Linked DNA regions of Homo sapiens: region 2 is linked to region 1. The links come from fine-mapping of genetic effects on gene expression. A gene starts in region 1. The other region holds a variant in brackets. All regions are shown on one strand. Distances are from middle to middle. Region 1 holds the start of MYO16 (myosin XVI). Region 2 overlaps MYO16 (myosin XVI).

Evidence for each region. PIP is the estimated chance that this variant, and not a neighbour inherited with it, causes the effect.
Region 2: its variant is fine-mapped to the expression of MYO16 in testis (GTEx, PIP above 0.99).

The regions. Positions count from the first base shown.
Region 1 is chr13:108,622,477-108,633,802 of GRCh38, forward strand. MYO16 (myosin XVI) reads left to right here and starts at 7,135. Exons shown (of 35, transcript NM_001198950.3): 1 at 7,135-7,396. The coding sequence starts at 7,369.
Region 2 is chr13:108,881,540-108,889,539 of GRCh38, forward strand. MYO16 (myosin XVI) reads left to right here. Exons shown (of 35, transcript NM_001198950.3): 13 at 1,520-1,647; 14 at 6,833-6,938. Among named protein-coding and RNA genes, the nearest start is that of MYO16-AS2, 220 kb to the right of the region's middle. The variant G/A (reference allele first, on the strand shown) is at 4,574.

The DNA.
Region 1 (11,326 bases):
CAGGGAAAGGATGTCCCAGTCTTCTACGGTTTCATTAGCCTCATGCACTGTGGCCAGAATTTATCTGTGTCTGTTGCTTTACTCTGAGAAGTCCTTCCAGTTATTTATGGGAGTGTGAAGTATGGAGAGAGAGACAGGGAGAGGAGGAAGAGAAAAGGAGGAGGGGGGAAGGCAGATGTTGGTGGGGGATGGAAAAGAGAGGGATGGTGGGGGATGGACGAGAGGAAGAGGAGGTAAGAGGAGAGGCCAAAATAGGCTAAGAGAGATTCTGATGGGAAACATGAAGTCGTGGATCATGAATCAGAGACATGGATCAGAGCACGGACCACACTCACAGAGCATCCTGGCACTGGTTTCCAAAGCCCCACTATTCAAAAAGCAATGGACGGAAAGCCTGATATCATCCTGCAAGGGCAGTGGAATTGTAACACAGGAGAGGAACCAAAGAGTTCAAGGACTCTAAGCTTTTATAAGCTGCACATATGCCCATTTGAGAGAAAGAGTGAGAGAGAGAAAAGGAAACAAATTTTCTCTTGGAGAAGAAAAGAGAAAGTCTCCAGGCTTATCACCCTGAAATATAAGCCCATGGGCCTGGGAGGTAATTCTCCAAATTGCTTCAGAGCTACACACACGACGTCCAGCTTCCAAGGTATGCTTTTATGTAATCACCATTTAACCAAGGCTGCCAATGCTCTTTCCTCTGACAGCCCAAACTGTGCAGATAGGAGAAAATATTTATGGAGAACAATATCGTAACAATGAGGGCTACTTAAACTTATCCAAAAGGCCTGAGACTTCAGTTTGGAGAAATAATTTAATGTCATTTGTGAATTTGGATATTTCAGTGTACATTCTTTTTCTAGAACACCTTAAAATATTGTTAAATTTTGGGAACCTCTCTAGTGACTATATTGTATCCATTGTCACTCAAAGAAAATTAGCAACAAGGGAATTCATTTAGAAGAAGAAAGTCAAACTTGCAGCCAGATCTCCCTATGATCCGTTTTAATGGCGCCTTCATGGGGGATATTGAAAAACAATATACACTCAGTCTACTTGTACCTACATGCTTGAATGAAGAAGGGGCTATACTCCACTTCATTTCTTTCTTCTTCTCCTGTCATGTATGGTAAGTTATGTTTACTTAAGTGTTCAATAATCCTGCCTTTAATAAAATATTCCTCAAGACATTATATGTCATGCACCAGAAAATGCTTTAGAGCAATTCTAATTCTCTGGCTCTCCCTTTGTTGATCTCTGAATGTTCACTAATGTTTTGGACTTCATAGGAAATAGGAAAAGTAGAAGGTCTGAGACTCAAATAACGAGTTACCTACCTAGGAAGAGCCTTCCCTATGATAACTAGTTAAGAAAAATGCAAAGCATTGCATTATAAATGCTGGATTGACTGGTACATGAAAAAAATGAATATAAGCTTTAGAGAAGGTCAGGAATAATTTAAGCAATAAAAAAATCAAGAACAGTTTGTAGATTAAATGGGCTTGAAGTAAATTTGAAGAATGCATGGAATTTGAATAGGTAACTTAGTGTGATTAAATTGTAAATAAGAGCATGATTCAACTAAAGAGGCATATTTTGTTTAAAAAATCCATGTATATCAATGGGAAAAGTATGAAGGAGAGGCTTCTTATTTAATTGCCTCACAATTCCTTTCATCCTTTTTGGGAAAATTAAGAATATCTTTTAGATCATCAAAAAACTTTCAGATATTGTCTTCTAAATGACAAATGTATAGAGATCTGTTCAAACATTTCAGCCTGGTGTCCCAGCTGTCTTATTTAGGCCAACAGTAATCGCTAAACTTGCTTCGTCATCAATAAATTTTTTTTTATCTGCCTATTCCTGGTAACTGGTTGCAGTATACTATTTATTCCCTCAAACTGATTGAAGAACAAGGCAAAGAATACTTAATTATTCATGTGCTCATATTCATCCATATCACACATGTGCACATAAACCTAGGTAGAGTCATACAGACATAAAACAAAACGGTCTGTTTCTTATTCACCATTAAGATATGCAAACTTTTGTCCAAGGTCAAACACCTGAAATGGAAAAGTCTTCCTAGATAGTTGTAACGCATATGCTGGAAAGATTTCAAAGTGGTTGTTCGGATTCAAGTGAAAAACCTTACAAATGCTTTACAAATGTCCTGCTTTAGATACCCAGTTTAACTGGTCCTCACTAGAATTTAAAACATTTCATTTTGATTAGGGAAAAAAATCACCAAAGGAAGTGGGTGGCCAAATGCCCTTAAGGAGCAATTAGAACATCCCATATAGCCTGAGTGTGTGTGTGTGTGTGTGTGTGTGTGTGTGTGTGTGTGTGTATCTTCATATATCCATATCAATGCACATGCATGTATTTGCTATTATATTAATCTATATTGTATTACAGAGAGTAATTTTCAGTCTTTTTGAAGCAGTTTTTAAAATTGCATTTCTTTTCTACATCAGTACTCTATGAAAGTATTTGAATAACCAGGGATATTTTCTAGCCGTTATATGACAAATTCACTTTTAGTCACTAAAGCAGGGCTCAGCTGGGTTAGCCCTCACTGCCCTCTGACATGGAGAGGGCAGTTCCTATTAACCCCTACTTCTTTCCAACTGTGCAAGTCTGTATTGTAAATTTCTTCTCATTTACTTCACAATTGCCCACATCTAACTTGAATGTCCGTTTGTTCTGGTTGGAGAAATGTGAGACTACGTGAAGCTGAAGTGAACACACAGCCCTGTGGAGTCCTGAATCCGAGAGCTAGTGGTTTCACAGGCAGGCCAAAATCAGGAACAACCTCCACAGTCACTAGACTGAGATCAGGGACTTTATGAGAGAGTCAAGGATGTTCAGTCATTCAAGGTAGGCTTGATCCTGGTCCTGAGGCACCAGGGGTTGACCAGAGGCTGATTCTATAGCAAGAGCTGAGTGTATTTATGCCTTATTTTTTGACAACTCAGATATTTTCTCCTCTGTAGGCTTCAGCCTCAAAGGACCCTAAGTTATTAGACCGGAGTTATGTTCCCAGGAGAGGTCTTGACTCCATTCACCCAGAAGCAGTCAATATTTGTGATAGAGGAAATTATAAATTTAGCTGTCAGCCATTGTGTGTGAGACACCTGTGGCTCAAGGTCTCTAAATGTGTGTAATTTACTTCATCAAAGGCTAATATTTATAAGCCCCAACCTATTCACAGGGCAGAGGCAATGATGCCCCATCACAGAGCTTAAATTTGCATAACAAAAAACTGTTGTGTGTGATTTATATCTTCATTTAGAATTTTTGTCATGACCTACTGTTAATACGTACCTTTCCCAAATTGGTGATGTTTGCAAACTTTAGTTTTAATTTCTTCATTTAATAAAGCATGTCAATGCAGGCACTATTAGATTAGGAATTATCTGTCAGCAGACTGGCATTATGAAACTACATGTTTTACATTGTCCAAATAGGTTTTAAATGAAAACATTAAGTAGTATCTCACCTGGGGCCTTTTTGGAGCTGTGTCTCATGTATCCCATTTTAAAAGATATTTACTAAGCAATTTCTAACTTTTGAATGCTTATCTCTCATTAGAATCATTGCAGTTTCTTTTTTTGTTTTTGGCTGGGAAATAATTTAGCCTTATTTGAAAAAATCTGGTGTATAATAATGCTAACATTTAAGAGAAAAAAAATCATGTGTTCATATCAGAAATAGTGTGAATAATGAGCAGCTGTATGGTGTATAAAAGAGAAAAAGGGGTTTCTTGATTATTCAAAAATGAGTTTGAAATATTATGCATTCGTATTTGGAAAGAACAATAGTTCATTGTAATAATACTGAAAAATAATAAAATAATTGTGCTTTATGCGTTTGAAAATTTTCTGGAAATGCAAAACAATACCCTCTTTCGAACGCATGGATTTAATTTTGTACTTAATGACCATATTCTGCAAAATAGATAAATTGCTAACCATATATTTAATTTAGCCTTGGTCATTTCTTGCTACTGTCATCAACTCTGATACCATATTTAAAATATAAGATTTAGCCGGGCATGGTGGCTCATGCCTGTAATCCCAGCACTTTGGGAAGCCAAGGCAGGTGGCTCACCTGAGGTCAAGCCTGACCAGCCTGACTAACATGGTGAAATCTCATGTCTACTAAAACTACAAAAATTAGCTGGGCATGGTAGTGGGTGCCTGTAATTCCAGCTACTTGGGAGGCTGAAACAGGAGAATTGCTTGAAACCGGGAGGCAGAGGGTTGCAGTGAGCCAAGATCGCGCCATTGCACTGCAGCCTGGGTGACAGAGAGAAACTCCATCTCAAAAGAGAAAATAAAAGAAAAGAAAAATATATATGTGTGTGTATATATATATATGTATATTATACATGTATATATGTATATTTTATGTATATATGTATATTATATATATTATATATAGCTATATATAATATATATAAAAATATATATTGTATATAATATATATATTATATATTATATATATATATGATTGAAGGAGTCCTGAAATTATTGTTCTGACCACCCAACAGTGAGTTGAGTTTCTCAGGGATGGATATAGAGGAGGAAATTTTAATCAACTTCAAGTTACCATTTTTAAAAAATTTTATGAAGGAAGTAAAGTTAATGGAACCAAAATTATTTTCCTCAGTATTAATGCCTGCATTAGAAATTAATTTTTGTTTTGTAGTGATGAAATATGTAAATAGGTTTAAACATAGTTCTACCAATGTTTAGAGCATGAGTATGTGGTTTCAAAGACAAAAAGATAAAAGGGCTTCTTAATCTGGGGAAATTATATGTAGATACAGTTTATACATAGAAAGCACATTCTAAGTAGTTTAAGAAATCTGTGAATACATTTCTCAGTGTATCCTCCTTCAACTCCTCAAAGTGGATTAGATGTTGGCTCTTGTTGTTTTAGAGGTCTACATTTGTAGTCTTACAGTTTCTAGCACACAACACTGTGCTATCTTGATTGTCTCTATTTCATCTGACGATAAGCACTTTGAGGTCAGGGAGTCAAGTTTCTCTTATAGCACAAAGAGTTGCCAAATGTTTATGGAATACATGAGTCGATGAAAAATAAACACATTTGATAATGAGCCCCTGGAGATGAGATGTTAATTCTCACGGGGTACCTTGGTTAAAGTTCTTATAAGAAATGCCTTAAGTTATTGAAAAAAGTAGGGCTCAAATCAATTATATTTTTAATAACATATTTTCTTTGTCAAGTGCACAACATGCCCCTCTGAGTGTTATGCTTTTTTTCAGTTTAAAGAGTGAATGGTATCATTAAACTCAATTGTCTTAAGATGTTTGCTGAGTTTGTATACATGCAGAGGCATGCAATTTGCAGAAAATTAAGACATTCAGACATTTAAGGAAGGTATATAGGCAACATACTATTTATCCGGCATTGTATTAAGAGAAGGGGGTAGGGACATCTACATGGATACAACCTTACCCGAAGATACATTAGATAACATTCACATAAATTCACAGTTATTTTATGCACATGTAAAGATTTGTATTGATTTAAAGAGGAGAGAGCTTTACTTCCCGTGTTGGAAACAGATATAGTTGTGTCTTACAGTTTTATTGAAACATTACAAAACATCCAAGAAACCCTTTAAAAATACATTATAGATTCCTGGTATATAAAGGCTCTGTTTTAGACATATTTTATTCCTGAAAAGCACCCAAAATGGTGACTTTTGTGACAGTGACTCTCAATAATTAATTGTGGAATCAACGAATAAATGAGGAATCAGCATTCCTGATGAAGGCTGCAAATCCTCATTCTAATTTTTGGAAAAGCCAAGTTAAAGCGTCCATAATCATCATTTGGTACATACATAAGTTTTTTTCCTTGTTAATGTTAATGACAACTTTTCAATGAACACCAACAACAGAAACCAGAAATTTTATGTGCATTATTTCTAACCTTCAGAATAAAGATTAGGAATTATATTTCACATGCATAGATGAGGAAACTGAGGCTTTAGCAGGTTAAATAATGTGTTTACATTGATACTCTGGTAAGTGGTAGAAGCTGGATTTGACATCAGGCTGTTCTGTGCGAAATCTTCAACTTATTATTTTACATCACGCTACTAAAATGTGTTAGAATATTATTCAGTGAAAATGTAATAGTCATGACCCCTTGTTGTATAGATTTGAATTTCATAATCTTCTAGTTTAATAAAAGCACTGCTCTTTGAGTTTTGTTCAGTAAGGAATACAAAATTATGTTACTGCCACAGAAGGATGGGTGCACTTAACATATTGTTCATGTTTACCTTTCCTATAACCTCAAACCTGAAACATAAATTCTAGACTATGTCAACTTGTCTTTGGAGAAGATCATCATAAAAATGTATCAATTTGCAAAAAAAATGTATCACTTTGAATTTGTAAACAACTTAAAATATAACCTTTTGGTTTGCTACCATGGCTATTTCATTATGAGTATGATATTCACTTTTATAACAATAAACCCTAGCAGACCATATATTTCTTTCTGATTCCAATTCAGTCAGATTTACTTCATCCAGTTGGGTTGTACAGTTAAATTCATTGCAGTCTGCAGAGGTAGGAGAATCCTAAATTTTAAAGCTATGCAAACCAAAAGCTTTTTGTGGATAATTTAAGTTTTACATTCTGCTCAGAAAAGCAGAAAGATGTGTTTTGAAATATAATGCAAGTTTTTCATTACTAAGGACAGATCAAAGATCTCTGATTCTAAGAGGTGGCTATTTTAAGCTCCTGCTATCAATTTCCTATTCACACACAGCAACTGGTGGCAACTAAAAATAATCCGCTTTACTACCAGCTAAGAATCTGGTCATATGTGGCTGATGGACAGTGTGCACGAAGAAGATTTAGGATCCTTCTATCCGTGGCTTCTCTCCAGCCCACTCATCAGCTTAGTTTGCTGCCATTTGAAAGCTATTGAAAAGCCATTAACAGGCAGGACCGGGAGAGCCGCACTGCAGCACACCTCCGTGCAGCAGAATGTGGCTGCATGTGAACACCAATTAGAGCTGACTATTCCCGGGATTGTGGTACTCGGGGCTGTGTCAATCAAGGGTGCTACAATAGCACGTGCACCAGTGGTGCCTCAAGACCCACCGGGGAGAGGCTTATCTTAACTCCAGCTGCCGAATGAGAATGAGTTTGAAGCTTTTTGCAGGATCATGGAACAGAGCCTCCATGCAATAGTGCATCCTGAGGTAAACTGTTACCTGAGTAAGGGCTTTAAGTAATGCATTTCCTGGGAACGACAGTTGTGACAGAAGAGAATGCTGGAACCCGTAGCAAGATTCCTGTCTGAGATGGAAAGATGTCTCACTATCATTTTATCAAGTGCTGTAAGTAAGCTTGATATCTTGCTCATGTGGTTATTTGTCTTGTTGAAGTATTATTTTGTGCAGATGCCAAAATTAAGGCAGTTCTCCTGGTATACCACATTCAGATGAGTGACATAGACTGGTGACTTAGAAGAATATTTTACAGGCTGGATATATTTCCTTTTAATTTTAGATTGTGAAATAATTCCAGTGTGATCCAAATGCTAATAGCACAGAGATCTTTAAAACTTCAGCTTTTTAAAAAAAATGATTCATAGACACAGCAACCAGAAAAAAAAAAAAACACCAGAAACACATGGAAAGAAATTACAAAAGCATATTTTTGCTCATTGGCACATGTTAATAAAGTACATAAAAACTAAGTTTATTAATATATGGCTGAGGTCATTTAGCTAGTATTTTAGTCTCAAGTTTTACTGCTTAAGCCTCTATTCAATGCTTTTTGTAAGTGTGATCTTTAGGGTTATCCTTGACTGTAAACTTTTGTCCTTGTATCATTCACCTTGCGGTGCTTAGGGACTCCAGGGACTCTGTACCAAATGCTCTCCACTGATGTTCATATGGTGAAATTTAGTTTGTCACCAGGTTCTCTTTTGGGCTTATCAAGGGTTTCTTTAGCGTCTGAAATTTTGGCAGAATTTTCTGAGCTAGAGAATACTTCCATCTAAACCAATTCTGGATGGTAATAATGAAGAGGAAGACATATTTATCCAAAAATGGCTTGCTGGATATACATTTTTGTCCCCTGCAGCACTTCTGAAAACTTCTGTACATATATATCATGATCTTAAAGTGACAGATGACATTTGCAGAAAATGGTTTTCTTTTAAGCTTAAGGTTTTGCTGCCAAAGGACATCACAATGTTAAATTGAAGCAGCATATTAAGGGAACACATGTGTTGAATGAATCTTGAGCTTTGCACTAAAGGAGACTAAAAAAATAATGATGATTGAGAAGGTGAAAATATTTACCTTTCTCTTATTTTTGGTAGAGAATGTATACAGGAATTAAAACTATGATTAATGGAAATAAAAATGCCTTACTCTTAAGCATTGCCAAGAATGTCATGCTTTCATGTTGCAGAACAATTTCAATTCCCAAAAGGATTCACTGGTCATCTCGTAAGTTTGCAGATTAGCTCTTTAACTAATAAGAATTAGAGGCATGCAGCGTATTTAAGAATTTTGAGAATAGTCTTCTGCTTTAATCTGTTAACTCTTGGGGTTATTTTCTTGGAGAAATAGACACAGGGCAATACTCTGACTGGTTTTTGTATTGCCTCTCGTGTTTTACTGCACTAGCAGAATGTCATTATTTTCCTTGCTGTGCCTCTGCAGAGGAAAAACTCTGCATCTTTCCTACAAGGAACCTGGATGCTCATTAGACACATTGAACACACCTGGTGGAGGGCAGCCATGGAGCATGGGTGGAAGCACAAAGGGACAGTGACATGGACGTGAGAGATTCAGGGAGCAGTTGGTCACCAAACACAATATGAGTCTGCCCTTTCCTGCCTTTTGTTCTGTTTTAGTTGAATTATTTGATTGTAGAATTTCGGAAAATTGTAGACATTTCAGAAAATTGGTGATGTCAATTGGAGCCTGTGAGATATTTCTTTTAGCATGCTAGTATAAGAGATGAAATCTAAAATTAATGAATTTAAACATTCCTGATGCATTTCTGAAAGTAATTAGCAACTACTTACTAAAGATCTGACTGCTTTCTAAGCTTTGAGTGTGACAGTCTATAAAATGGAAAGGAAGCATGAATATTATGAAATGCTAACTTTACTGGAGAAATGGTGCGATGTGTTAAGGAGTTCAGAAATTATACTGCATTCTGTGCTGAACTAGTGAAGGGTGTTTTATGAAAAAAATGCATCTTGAGCTATATCTTGGAAGGATGAACAAAATATAGAAGAAGGCCGGGCGTGATGGCTCACGCTTGTAATCCCAGAACATTGGGAGGCCAAAGCAGGCGGATCACCTGAGGTCAGGAGTTTAAGACCAGTCTGGCCAACATAGTGAAACCCTGTCTCTACTAAAAATACAAAATTTTGCTGGGTGTGGTGGTGGGAGCCTGTAATCCCAGCTACTTGGGAGGTTGAGGCAGGAGAATTGCTTGAACCCGGGAGGCGGAGCTTGCGGTGAGCTGAGATCGCGCCATTGCACTCCAGCCTGGGTGACAAGAGCAAAACCCCAACTCAAAAAAAAAAAAAAAAAAAAAGAGTGAATGCCCTCATGGTATCCTAAGGGTTTATTGATAAGGATCATAATTCATGGTTTAATGGTTGTTCCTGATGCGTAAGATTTTCCCAAATTGTTGTCTCCCATATTGGGCTGATCTGCTGGCGAGGTTCATCGGCCTTCGTCACACTCCATTCCTTCTTCGCCTGTCCTGCATTTCTACCACATATCTGTCTTTCATTCTGAGCCAGATTTATCACCATAGCACGTTCACTTTCAAGCCAGACAGCAATGCAGGAAGTGGATGAATTCCAGGGCAGGAGCAGGACCTTCTGAAATGTGCAACATTAGCATCCCATGTGCTCCTAGTGAATCACAGGAAGCCTTCAGGTGGGATGCTGGGTGACCAATAGCTAATGCTCGCAAGGAACTGTTAGTCACCTGGGAAAATACTCATCATCTAAGGTGAAAAAATTATACGCTTCAAGGTCGAAACTTAATCTAACAGTTGTTATCTCCAGTTTATGATAATATCTGTTACTTTGTAAAACATTTTTACTTTATTTTAGAGAAGGGTTAAAAACTAGAGTGTAAAAATTTACTGTGGAAGCAGGATATAGCAGGAAAGTGTAGGAACACCACAGCAAAAAGTGTGGCCATTTCATGTATCTTGGTAGCTGAGAAGTAGCTTTAGACAGATCTGCAGTGAGAGCCAGTCTCAGAGCCCCATGCCTGTTGAGAGGTAACACATGAACATGACCAGGCCCCAGCTGAGGCGCAAGCAGAAATGAGAAATGGAACTCAAGGGAGTCATGGGCTCACAGAACTTTAAGGCCATGTGAGACTTGAAACTACTTTTGTTTTAATGAACTGAAGCGGAGGCTTGAGGTCTACCTGTGGAGTTCCCTTCACGTGCCTCTGGGGGTGAAGCATTGCAATAACTACACCTGACCTATTTCTCTCCTGGTTCAGCTCTTCTCTAAGCATACGGGTTTGGGGCAGCATTGTTTGCAGCAGGAGGAAGGTTAAAGTTATTTAAAATGAATATTCTCCAGAGCTGAGAATTCATTTACAACACCTAAGAACGAATTGTATCAGAAAATCTGTTACTTTATATGTTGTATTAGTCAGGGCTTTCTTGAGGGGCAGAACTAATAAGATAGATGTATATATAAAGGGGAGTTTATTAAGGAGAATTAACTCACACAATCACAAGGTGAGGTCCCACAATAGGCCATCTGCAAGCTAAGGAGCAAGGAAGCCAGTCAGAGTCCCAAAATATCAAAAGTAGGAAAGCTGACAGTGCAGCCTTTAGTCTGTGGTCAAAGGTCCAAGAGTCCAAAAGCGGAAGAACTTGGAGTCTGATGTTCAAGGGCAGGAAGCATCCAGCATGAGAGAAAGATGTAGGCTGGAAGACTCAGCCAGCCTGGTTCTTCCATGTTCCTCTGCCTGCTTTTATCCTAGCTGCACTGGCAGCTGATCAGATGGTGTCCATCCAGATCGAGGGTGGGTCTGCCTCTCCCAGTCCACTGACTTGAATGTTAATCTCCTTTGACATCACCCTTGCAGACACACCCAGGAACAATACTTTGCATCCTTCAATCCAACCAAGTTGACACTGAGTATTAATGATCACACATATTAAACATGTTTTATGATACCAAGGTTAAAACCCATTTTTTTCCTCAAGCCACTCATGCTGATGAACACCACCTCCAGTAAAATGCTTTCCTCACTTTTCTA
Region 2 (8,000 bases), 260 kb after region 1:
AACCTCGAAAAAAGATTAGACAAATGGCTAACCAGAATAAAAAGCATAGACAAGGTCTTAAATGACCTGATGGAGCTGAAAACCATGGCACGAGAACTACGTGACTCATGCACAAGCTTCAGTAGCCGATTTGATCAAGTGGAAGAAAGGGTATCAGTGATTGAAGATCAAATGAATGAAATGAAGTGAGAAGAGAAGTTTAGAGAAAAAAGAGTAAAAAGAAATGAACAAAGCCTCCAAGAAATATGGGACTATGTGAAAAGACCAAATCTATGTCTGACTGGTGTACCTGAAAGTGACGAGGAGAATGGAACCAAGTTGGAAAACACTGTTCAGGATATTATCCAGGAGAACTTCCCCAACATAGCGAGTCAGGCCAACATTCAAATTCTGGAAATACAAAGAATGCCACAAAGATACTCCTTGAGAAGAGCAACTCCAAGACACATAATTGTCAGATTCACCAAAGTTGAAATGAAGGAAAAACTGTAAAGGGCAGCCAGAGAGAAAGGTCAGTTTGCCCACAAAGAGAAGCCCATCAGACTAATAGCAGATCCCTGAGCATCAAGCATTTTAAAATACTTTTCTGGCATGTGGTCCCATCAACCTTAAATATGTTTACTGTGTATTTAAACAAAGGTATTCTCCTGTGTAACCTCCCTACAGTCATCAAAATGGGAAAATTATTACTGATGCACTGGTGTCACTGAATCAAGAGACCTCGTTCAGGATTTCCCATTGTCTCAGTAATGCCCATAGAGCTAGAGATTCAGGCCAGCGCTGCACGTTGCATTTTGAACCACCATGCCCTTGACTCTCCTTCAGTATGGACCAGTTCTGCAGTCTTCTTTTGACTTTTCTGACCTTGACATCTTTGAAGATACAGGCCAGTTATTTTGTACAATAAAAATAACTTTGATTTCTTCACAACTAAGAAGTCTTCCTACTCTTGAGTTTTTATTCTAAAGTAATAAAATTTACTAGAAATTTAAAAGGACTAAAACTACTGGAAATGAATCATTATGGCAATAATTATAAATCACCGTTTCTCTAAAATTAATTAATTTTTGTTTTTCTGAGAAATTTGTAAACTTATATGCATTTCAGCTGCAACTGCCTCTCACATTCAAGTTTAAAACCTTGGCTATCTTATGGTATTGAAATTAAATACTGCTGAGAGAAATTGTATTTGTTGTAAATTACCACAGTTTCAGCTTACTGCACAGATATCTATTAAAGAACATATTTTGTGAGTTGCTCTTCTTAAAGACAGCAGAATAATTAAAGCCTGTGGACCAAGTAATGAAGGATAAAGTATAAGCCTCCATTTTGTCATTATGCATGCTGAAAATGTGCTGAGAAGGGTGTAATTTTACAAATGTTTTTACATACCAATGAGATTCAGAATTAGGGATTCATTCACTTCTGTATCTTGGACAGAAGTCACTCTCATTATGGGATGAGGAATACTGGCGCCTTTTCACTGAGGTTTTCCCCTTGCTGCTGCCCTGTTTTCCAGGTGTCCCAGCTGTATTTCAGCTCCTCAGGGAAGCTGTGTTCCTCGCTGCCTCCTCACCTCTTCTCCTGTGTGGAGAGAGCCTTTCACCAGCTCTTCCGGGAACAGCGGCCTCAGTGTTTCATCCTCAGGTGAGTCCTCCTCAACCTTGTCTGCCAGGCTCAGGTTTGCCACGGGGCTTGGCAGTAAAGATGTACTCATTTCCTATGGTTTACCTTTATTTACTTTCTCAGCACCTTGAGGTCCAGTATATCTTTGCAATAAGTACATTTGACTCGTTACAAAGGAGAAACATCTTGGCTGTTAGGAGTAGCCCCAAGTGTAGCTGGATCAATATTAATAAACTTAACCTGAAACTCATTTCCTTTTGAAGATTTAAAGCTTAGATAAAAAGTTTTTGCTTTTGAACCTAAGAAAACATGGAGAAAGAAAAACTACCAATATTACGGAACCTAAGCCACTGTTCTTCAAAATCCAGGGCTGCCCCAAATATCATTTTATTTCTTTCCAAAGGTATGTTTTCTCAGCCTGTTTCTTGTTATTTACCTTTGCTCACAATTCACTGTACTCTACTTCCTAAACTTTTTTTTTTTTTTTGAGACAGGGTCTTGCTCTGTCACCCAGGCTGGAATTTAGTGGCATGATCACCAGTCACTGCAGCCAAGGCTCAAGTGATCCTCCCACCTCAGCCTCCCAAGTAGCTGGGACTACAGGCACATGCCACCACACTTGGCTAATTTTTTAATTTTTGTAGAGATGAGATCTCACTATATTGCCCAGGCTGGTCTCAAACTCCTGGGCTCAAGCGATCCTCTTGTCACAGCCTCTCAAAGTGCTGGGATTACAGACATGGGCCACTGCATTTGGCCCAGAATATTTTTTGAATTTGAAATGTAATGCTAGATTTAACTCACCAATTAATAGAAAATTAAAGAAACATTTAAATGTTAAAATCTGCATCAGAGACCTATATTTTATATTCAGCCAAACCTCTACAAGGGAGGGAAAGCTCTATAAATACTCACTCACGGTAGCGCCTTAGTTGTTGTCAGTAGTGCTGGTTGGAACTCAACGGATAAGTACAGTAGCACACAACTCGAGTCAAAGTGAAATGAAAATGGTATAAAGTTAGAACCTGGATAGAATTCAAAAGGCTTATTTAAATATTAAAATGAGAGCTTATATGTTTATATGCATTTCATCAAAAATTCTATGGAGGGTGGAGGGACAGACTGATGGGCGCACACTTTAGTTTTCTAGTTTTCAAAGCAGCATGCTAGCGGTTGTTTTCGTGCTGGGTTCAGATGCATCCCAAGGATGAGGAAGGTGCTGAGGCAGGGGCTTCGACACATTCTAAACTCTAGGATAAGAAAGGCACTGAGGCATGGGATTCCACCCATTCTAGACTCAAAAATGAGAAAGGCGCTGAGGCAGGGAATTCCACCCATTGTAGACTCAAGGATGAGAAAAGCACTGAGGCAGGGGCTTCTGCCCATTCTAGGCTCAAGGATGAGAAAGACGCCGAGACAGGGGCTCTCACCCATTCTAGACACAAGGATGAGAAGGGCGTCAAGGTGGGGGCTCCAACCCATTCTAGACACAAGGATGAGAAAGGCACCGAGGCAGGGGCTTCCACCCATTCTAAACTCAATGATGAGAAAGGCTCTGAGACACGGGCTCTCACCCATTCTAGACACAAGGATGAGAAAGGCACTGAGGCGGGGGCTCCAACCCATTCTAAACTCAAGGATGAGAAAGGCGCTGAGACAGGGGCTCTCACCCATTCTAGACATGAGGATGAGAAAGGCTCTGAGACAGGGGCTCTCATCCATTCTAGACACAAGGATGAGAAAGGCACTGAGACAGGGGCTCTCACCCATTCTAGACACGAGGGTGATAAAGATGCTGAGACAGGGGCTCTCATCCATTCTAAACTCAAAGGAAGAGAAAGACGCTGAGACGGGCTCTCACCAATTCTAGACACGAGGATGAGAAAGGCACTGAGGTGGGGGCTCCAACCCATTCTAGACTCAAGGATGAGAAAGGCACCAAGGCAGGGGCTTCCACCCATTCTTTCTTTTGATACGGAGTTTCGTTCTTGTTGCCCAGGCTGGAGTGCAATGGCACAATCTCAGCTCACCGCTACCTCTGCCTCCTGGGTTCAAGTGATTCTCCTGCTTCAGCCTCCTGAGTAGCTGGAATTACAGGCATGTGCCACCACGCCCGGCTAATTTTGTATTTTTAGTAGAGTCGGGGGTGTCACCACGTTGGTCAGGCTGGTCTCGAACTCCTGAGCTCAGGTGATCCACCTGCCTCGGCCTGCCAAAGTGCTGGGATTACAGGTGTGAGCTACTGTACCTGGCCACTCATTCTGGACTCAAGGATGAGAAAGGCGCAGAGATGGGGGCTTCCACCCGTTCTAGACTCAGGCAACCCTATTTTTATCTGCTTTGTCTGTCCAGTTTCCTGGTCTTCCTTTGATAAATAGGGAAAACTTTTTAAAAGTTGCTTAGAAAAAACACTGTCAATTGGTGAGACAGGGAGAGTTTAACACTGTTGACAATAACAACTAATGTTTATTGAGAATTTACTGGCTGCCAGACCCTTGACTAGATTATTTCTATGTATTATTTATTTCTTTAGAATTTACATAACTTTTGAGTGCTCCCACTTAATTCTAGGATGATCATTGCAGCTGTTATAGGTCAGTTTTTGAAAGCGTGGGTCCTGAGCAAGGCTCTAAGGGGAGAAAAGGAGGAGCAGCAGGCCCATGCGCTTTGGGAGTCCGCCCGGGAGATGGCACACAGCGGCCAGCAAGTTTTCTTATGAAGAACCCCGTTTATCTTAGTTTAACCCAACAGTTTTGACAGGTATTTGCTCATGGAACTTTTTATCCAGTATATATTCTGCAGAACTAGTTTTGCTTTGGGTCTTTTTTTTTTTGATATGGAGTCTTGAGTCTCGCTCTGTCGCCCAGGCTGGAGTGCAGTGGCGCGATCTGGGCTCACTGCAAGCTCCGCCTCCCGGGTTGACGTCATTCTCCTGCCTCAGCCTCCC[G/A]AATAGCTGGGACTACAGGCGCCCGCCATCACGCCCGGCTAATTTTTTGTATTTTTAGTAGAGACGAGGTTTCACCGTGTTAGCCAGGATGGTCTCGATCTCCTGACCTTGTGATCCGCCCACCACAGCCTCTCAAAGTGCTGGGATTACAGGCGTGAGCCACCGCGCCCGGCCCTCCTTTGGGTCATTTTTTAAAGTTAATGATTCCCTGTACCAACCCCTTATTTTGAAAAAATACCTCTTCATTCAAGTTTCAAGAAGGTGTTGATGCAGGATTTTGCTCCTTAGCTCGGCTACGTCCAGGTTCTTGCCTCACGACCTGGAAAAATGAGGCGTGCGGACACGAGAGAGTAAGTGGAGTAGAATTTATTATGCGAAAGGGAAGCTCTCAGCAGAGAGGGGTCCTGAAGCAGGGTGCCTGGTGCCCCCTTCTCAGTTGAATACCACCAGAGCTTAGGGCGCAAACTGCTGGCGGCTCCACCCCCCGTCCTTCCAGTGCGCATGCTGAGGCCGAGCTGCTCCATATTGATTGATTTCCCTTGCTGCACGTGTGCTAAGGAACGGACTCTTCCACCGCAGGCTTGTTTAGGCAAAGCCCCCTGTGCAAGTTCCCTTATCGGCACAAAACATCTGACGTAAGCACTCGTGGGGCGGGTCGGAGCTTCTCGGGGGACCCTTCCCTGACTGTCTGCCTGAAGCAAGCTGGAGAACTCCTTTCGGTATCGCTAGTCCTGATATACAGAATGGAAGAGCAAATCTCTGGTTACTAGGACTTACTGTTTTAGTGATTCTCTTTCTTCTTTCAAAATTGTGTGTGCTTTCATACAGCTTTGCCACATCCTTGATTGTGTGGGCTAAGATACATGCTTTCTCCATTTTTACGAATATGATAAAATTAGCCATTTGAAATTCAACTTAATAAGTTGTTAACGGATCATTATTGAGTGTCAGTTGTGTCCCAGAACGAGCACTTACAAAGGGTAATTTAAGATTTAGCAATCAAAACGCAAGTAGTCCTGGAATGGATGTCCCAAAACTCAGTACCAGACCAGAAAAAATTTCATTTTGTTTTCTAATATTAACTTAATACCTCATTTGTTGATACTCTTAGGCCCCAGTAGTTCAAAAGTCTGCACAAGTGAGTGGAAGCATCCATTAACGACTCGACACTTTAAACAAATAATTAAATTTCAACTTACTTCTTTTCTGGCAAACACTGTTAATTAACTTTGTTAAAATAGATGTTTCCAGGCAGAAAACCAAGGAAGCTCTCCTAAAAGGGCTTTAAAAAGTTTTTCTGGTTACCAAATAAGTAAAGGCTGTTTTTATGAATTTTTCATCTGGATGAAGTAATAACTTTATTGTAGATCACATCACTTTGAAATAATAATTATTTTGTGGGAATTTTATGTCAATCCTATATCATATAGTGTCAGGAATATAATATTTACCATTTTTAAAAATTGGGTGAGTTAATGAAGTATGCCTGGGATGTATTAAAAGTGATGCCCTTATAAATAAAAGTTCAGTGATCTTTCCTAGATTAAAGAAAAATGCAAACTAGAGAACATCAGAACTGAAAGCAAGCGGAAAAGGAAACCTAAGCAGGTCAGGTTTAGTAGGATCTGCGGAATGACAGATCCACATCTGAAGACCTTACTGCCTTAGTTTTTGTAGCTAGGCACTTTATGTTCATTTCAAAGAACAGAGAAGGAATGCTCAGAAAGATGTCACAGCTTTTCCACAGAAGAGGTAACGTCTCTCCTGTAAGGCCCATGAAGCATGAACAGTTTTCCCAAGGCCATGTGTGAGCCTGCATGTCTCAACACAGCATGCTGTCTCGGGATCGCCTCACTTTATGTTGACTTGCTAAGCTGAGTCAAGTTGGTTATGTCTTCTTCTCAGCCTGACACCTTTCTGGCATAATTCACCTACACTAGGTGGTTCTACCCTGTGAGATACTGAATGGCAGAACTTGTGTCATATTCATTTGTAATGCCAGCATCTGAAACACCATCAGGGACATGACACAGTCAACATATACTGGGTATTTCAGACAAATGAATCAAATTGAAGTGTGAACGGAGACCACAAACTCATTGCAAGTAGATGTGCCATTCCCTCCTCATTTCTGTGTCTGAGAAATATCTCCAGTTAATTTTTTTACTTGTTCCTTCAAAGTAGTTTCAAAGGAACAAAGGAACAAGCTTTGAAGCAAAGTTCCTTCAAACTTATGTTTTTCCTCTCTGTTTTCCTTAGTGGAGAAAGGGGATCAGGAAAGTCTGAAGCCAGCAAACAAATCATAAGACACCTCACCTGCAGGGCTGGCGCCAGCAGGGCCACACTGGATTCCAGATTCAAACATGTAAGTTTTTTGTTTGGGTTGGCAAATATGTGAATGAAGATGTTCAGCCAGTTGTCATTTACAAATAGGGGAGGGGACATCATAATAGATACAAGGGGGTTCAAAATTTGTGGAAATAAAGAATAAAAAATTATTGAGCTTGGGTTCAAATAAATACTGTTCGAGTGAACATTTATTTATTTTACATATTTAAAATATTTTGTACATACTTTCTTTTTGTATTTGCTCCGAATAGTTGGATCTAAAACACGTAATATAGGTAGATGTTGTTGTTCACAAAGAAAGTGCACTTTGAGGCTGAGCGCAGGGGCTCACGACTATAATCCCAGCACTCTGGGAGGCCGAGGCATGTGAATCACCTGAGGTCAGGAGTTCGAGATCGGCCTGGCCAACATTGTGAAACCTCGTCTCTACTAAAAATACAAAAATTAGCCAGGAGTGGTGGCTGGTGCCTGTAATCCCAGCTACTCAGGAGGCTGAGGCAGGAGAATTGCTTGAAGCCGGGAGGCAGAGGTTGCGGTGAGCTGAGATCATGCTGTTGCATTCCAGCTGGACAAGAGCAAAACTCTGTCTCAAAAAAAAAAAGAAAAGAAAAAGAAAGTGCACTTTGGTGTGTTAGGACATTTTGGGGAGCTGGCCAGAAAAGAAATTATTGTGAGGGATCACTGGGGCCTGATAATAAATCTTTGGTGTATCTGAAAGAATTGGCAATAGTTATCCTTAAAGACTTCGATGGGCAGGCCATGCACCTTTGGGGCCAAAACAGATTTTAAACTATTTGGAAACATTTGCAGTGTTAACTGTCCCGCTAATTCATCATTCTAAAATATGACCGTGATTCAAGGAGGAAGCAAAAAGACCTGTTAGCAGCTAAGATAAAGCTAAAAACATCCCACATAATCAAACTCAGAAATTTTACTCAAGGAGGCCACCACAGGTGCTTATCCATAGACTGATTCTGTTGTTTATACATAGTTCTAGCAAGTTTTGTTAAAAGGTTTGTTCAGACCATAGCAGATCAGAAGAAGACATTGAAAGGCCACTGGAAGGAATGGCTAACAG